Regions from separate parts of the Homo sapiens genome. Here region 2 is linked to region 1. The links come from fine-mapping of genetic effects on gene expression. Tissue or cell type: thyroid. Region 1 holds a variant in brackets; the other region holds the start of a gene. All regions are shown on one strand. Distances are between the middles of the regions.

What was found. PIP is the estimated chance that this variant, and not a neighbour inherited with it, causes the effect.
Region 2: COTL1 starts here. The variant in region 1 is fine-mapped to the expression of COTL1 in thyroid (GTEx, PIP above 0.99).

The regions. Positions count from the first base shown.
Region 1 is chr16:84,531,538-84,534,037 of GRCh38, reverse strand. No RefSeq gene overlaps it. Among named protein-coding and RNA genes, the nearest start is that of MEAK7, 28 kb to the right of the region's middle. RefSeq lists enhancers at 251-927, 928-1,606, 1,607-2,284 and silencers at 1,821-2,115, 2,398-2,500. The variant G/T (reference allele first, on the strand shown) is at 1,560.
Region 2 is chr16:84,616,687-84,619,186 of GRCh38, reverse strand. It overlaps COTL1 (coactosin like F-actin binding protein 1), which reads left to right and starts at 1,109. Exons shown (of 4, transcript NM_021149.5): 1 at 1,109-1,349; 2 at 1,604-1,686. The coding sequence starts at 1,273. RefSeq lists silencers at 851-1,210, 1,231-1,280.

The DNA of each region.
Region 1 (2,500 bases):
GCTCTTTAGTGACCAGAGCTCACCTAGTTTTTCAGGCTTGCACAATAGGTGCATAAAGAGTGAACATCAAAGAGACAACCATGCACTGTAATAAATCACAGAACATCTACTGAAGAGAACATCACTCATTTAGTAAATACTGGTGGGATGCGTGCATGATTTCAGCCACTAAAAGTTATGTTATGAGGCTGGGTGCAGTGGCTCACATCTGTAATCCCAGCTCTTTGGGAGGCTGAGGTGGGCAGTTCACTTGAGGTCAGTTGGAGACCAGCCTGGCCAACATGGCAAAACCACATCTCTACTAAAAATAAAAAAAAATTAGCCAGGCGTGGTGGCACGCACCTGTAGTCCCAGCTACTTGGGAGGTGGAGGCAGGAGGATCACTTGAACCTGGGAGGCAGAGGTTGTAGTCAGCCAAGATTACACCACTGCACTACAGCCTGGGCAACAGAGTGAGACTCTGTCTCAAAAAAAAAATTATGATATCAAGTGAAAAAAAATATAAAATTGTATAATTCTGTGTTGCTTCACTTCATGTGACAAGATTATAATTAAGATGTATAAATAGTCACAGGTTAAAAAAAGGAAAGAAAGGAGGGCGATTCACAGAACTGCTAGGGGTGGCCGTATTCCAGCTGCATATATGTGGTTGTGCAGACAGAAGTTAGTATAGCAGGCTTGAGACTGCTATCTTTCGGAAGACCTGCTTGCTAGGTTGACTCTTGGCTGGTGTCTGGGAACTTGGCACTTGAGCTGTTTCCTAAATGATAAAAGTGGTTCACTGTGCTTAGACCACAAACAATGTGGTTCGTGCTAAACACGTGCTTCCCTTCGGGAGCTGGGAATTTGGTACCTGCTAAGAAGAAGGTGCCAACTGACCAGCCCTTAGAAAAACTCTGGGGTGCTGAGTCTCTGATGGGCTTCCTTGGACAGAAGCCTTGCAGACACACAGCTGCATTTTTGTTGATGGGGACGGAATGTGCTCTGTGCAACCCTTCTTGGGGAGGGGAGGGCGTGAGAGAGCCTCATAATGGACTCCTGCAGACTCCAACTCTACGGTTTCGCCTTTTGAGCTGATTGTGTATCCTTACTGCACTGTTGTAAATAAATCTTAGCCACACATACAGCTACCTGAATATGCCGAAGCCCATATGAATTCTTTTAGCAAATCTATGAATGTGAGGGTGGTCTTCGGGACTCCCAGCATAATCTGTGTGAGGTTTCTTGCTTCTCTCTTCTGGAAGGTGGTTATGTTACTTTCATAAGGAAAAAAAATAAACACGCTTCTAAATTTTGCCAAATGAATGTGCAGCTATGATGTTCTGACAGTCATAAGGTTGTGTTCCTGGTGCCGCATCCTCAGCGGGAGTTTCCAGTAGCCGCTTAGCTGGCAGCTTCCTTCCTGCCCTGGCCTTGGCTCTAACATCCCTCCTATGGAGATTGTCAGAAGCCACCACTAACTCTCTTCCTACTGGGCCGCAGGCAGGAAACGACCCAGATAGCCTGGAGCTGAGGCCTTGCCCTGAAAGGGAACCGCACATGAATGCAACAAGACACAA[G/T]AACTCCCAAATATGGACATGAGATGTTAAGCAGCCAAGAATGTGCTTTTAGAAATGGTACCAAGTTCCTCGGCTGCTCCTGGGGAATTCCTCTCGGGAATGCGGAGGCGAATGGTCATTCTTTTCTGGAAAGGTCACTGCTTGTGTTAACATTCACCCTCCCAGTGAGTGCCCTGGCTGAGCTTGTGAATGAGAGAATCAGAATGGAGGGATTTCAGCAAGCAGAGGGGACTAAAGGGACATTTTGCCAAAAATGCAAACCCAGCAGCCAAGATTGCAGTCATTTTCAATAAATGTCAAGCTGCAATACATTTTCAAGTTGCAATCAGTTTGCAAGTTGGTAACATTTTTGGGTTCCTTTGTTCAGGTTCTGGCTTGTCTGCTTGGAGGGTGCGTTCATCTGGAGTGTCAAGACTGACCTGGGGGCGGAGGTGTGGGTGGCGCCGGGGACTTGTTCACCTGGGAAGGATACCACGTCTCTCAGCCTTTGGAAGGAGTGAATGGATGAGCAAATGAATGAGTGCATGAGCAGGCATGATGCTTAGAAACGCAGTGAACCAACTCCGATCCCAAACTGCAGCAGGCTTCATGACAAAGGGAGCAGAACGTACTGGTGAGAACAAGGGCTGTGCTGTCAGACAGACTTGGTTTCCAGACCTGCCTCCACCACAGTGAACTGGGACAAGCCATGCATCTGACTTGTGTATTGGCCACAGATATCTTGGGCAAGATCTCTGAGCATCTGTTTCCTCATCTGTCGCATGGTGCCCATCATTTCTACTTTGAGGGGCACTGTGAGATGAAATGCAATCATGCATGTCAAGTGCAGGCACTCAGGCAGCTACCGGCTCCTCAGGGTTTATTAGGAGGGCACATCAGGAGGAGGGTAAAGTTTCTACCTTCCAGCTGGGTGTGGCTCACACCTGTAATCCCAGCACTTT
Region 2 (2,500 bases), 85 kb before region 1:
CAGTACTGGATGCAATTCAAGAGCCCAGTCTTCAGGATCCTGCCTTTTTACCTACCTGGACGCTGTAACTGGTCTCTGTGGAATGGCTGGATGAGGGAATGAATGAATGAGTCAGTGAAGGAATGAGGAAGACAGAATGAGTCAGCTCGTGCTTTCAGAGGAGCCCAAAGGGAGAGGTTAAGATAGGAATGCAAATGACCAGAATCCAGAGTAAACGCGAGCCCACCAGCGTTTTGGAAGCAGTCCACTTTCTACCCCCTCCTATTTAAAATGCTTCATTCTTTCCAGTTCCTCCCCACCTAGAATCCATGGAACCAAACGCTGGGGTAGGGACAGTGGCCAGCCTGTCTCCTTGGGTTTGACGCATTACATCATCCACGTGGAGGTCCCCTGTGGAGCTCTGCAGCCCTGCAGCCTCAGGGGCAGGGGGGTGGGGAGAATGAGGAAGGGGGAGAGGGGGAATAGGAGGAGGGAGTAGGGGACAGGGAGGGAGGAGATGCCAGGAGGGTAAGTGGAGAAGAGGGAGGCGAAGCCGGGGGCAGCAGGGGAGGGGGTCAAGGAGGAGGAAAGAGGAGAGCTTGGGGAGAAGGAAATAGGGAGGATGGAGAAGTTTTGGGCTGGGATAGGCAAGAAGAGGGAGGAGGAGAGAGGAAGAAGAATAAAGGGGGAAGGGAGAAAGAGGGGGAGGGAAGGGAGGGGGAAGAGGTCAGGGAAGTGGGGGAAGCAAGCAGTGGGGGAAGAAGAGGAAGGAGGAGGGAGAGGAGGAAGGCGGGGTGGGAAAGGGGGTTGGGGTAGTGGGAGTTTCCAGGGAGGGGTCGGGAGGGGAGGAGGGGAAGTGAGAAGGAGAAGGAGAGAGAAGAGGGATGTTGGGGGAGAAGAGAGCGGGAGGGAGGAGGGAGAGTGAGAGGGAGGAGGCAAAGCCCCTACTCCAGCCCCCACCGCGGAGTTGCGCAAGCCTTCCGGTCTGGGATTGGCCGCCAGAGAATCAAGACGCTCCGCCCCCGCAGCCCGACGGCCAATGAAGAGGCGGGCCGCCGCCTGGGCGGCCAATGGGCGCGGGGGGGCGGGGCGGGCCACGGCCTGGGGTCCCCGCGCGCTCTCCGTCCGCAGTGGAAGCCGCCGCCGCGCTCGCAGCTTGCAGGCGCCGCGTAGCCGTCGCCACCGCCGCCAGCCCGTGCGCCCTCGGCGCGTACCCGCCGCGCTCCCATCCCCGCCGCCGGCCAGGGGCGCGCTCGGCCGCCCCGGACAGTGTCCCGCTGCGGCTCCGCGGCGATGGCCACCAAGATCGACAAAGAGGCTTGCCGGGCGGCGTACAACCTGGTGCGCGACGACGGCTCGGCCGTCATCTGGTAGGAACTTTTCATTCGTCTCCACGCCCCGCTCCCCGGGCTCGCGCGGGGCCTCGTGCACCGAGCCGGCCTCCAGGCGGGACGGATTCGGGCCTCCCGCGCTGTCTTCCTCGCCTTATTCCGGGACGGCGTGCCAGGCCCCCGCGGGCTTCTCCGTGGCCAGCGCGTCTGTTAGATTGTCCTCTGCAAGCGCCGCGTCGCGCGGCCACCAGCGCTGATGTGTGTGTGTGTTTTTTTCTTCTCCCAACCCAAAGGGTGACTTTTAAATATGACGGCTCCACCATCGTCCCCGGCGAGCAGGGAGCGGAGTACCAGCACTTCATCCAGCAGTGCACAGGTAGGGAGGCGCGCCTGCCGGGCGGATGCGCGGTCGTTGGGAGGTTGTCTGCACCCGGGGAGCCCCGGCCAGAGCGAACCCGGGAGGAACCGGTGGCCACATGGGGTGCCCCTGGCGCATGGCGTGGGAGGAACCCGGTGTGAGCGTTTTAAGGCCTCATAAAACCTTCTCCCCTCTGGACATCCGAAGCAACAGAAGTGACCCACCTGCCTCCGCCATCCTACAATGCCTTCTCCAGGCGGGGCAGCTCTTTTGCCCCCTGCGGTCCACTGGTTTTCTAAGGTCAACTCCTGTGTTTCCAAACTCCAGTGTCCATCCAGCTCTTCCCACTGTCCCCTTTGATCAGTCACTGAGCCCAAATACGAACAGGCTAGGGGGCTGCTTGGAAGGGAAAGAAACTCAGCCGCGCCCTCCTTTCTCCCGCTATCATTGTCTGCCCGTGTGCTGATTTTATGTGATTTTTAATTTGACGAGTAGAATCAGATGCAAAAGAGTACACACCATATGATTCCATTTAGAAATCCTAGACAAGGCGAAACTAATCTATGGTGTGAATGTCAGAATCGAGATTAGCTTTTGGGGCTAGATAGCCACTGATGGGGAGGGGCACACCACCCGGACTGCTGGGAGCTGAAAATGTCTCTGTAGACATTTGTTGATCTGGGAGGGGGTTATGCAGGTGTGTACCCGCGTGAAAAATCATCAGACTGTATACTTAAGATTTGTGTGCCTTAGGCACTTCCCTGTGGCTTGTGAACCATGAAAAGAAAGACCACGTGGCAGGCATCGCCATAAACCCTTCGGTAGTGGCAGA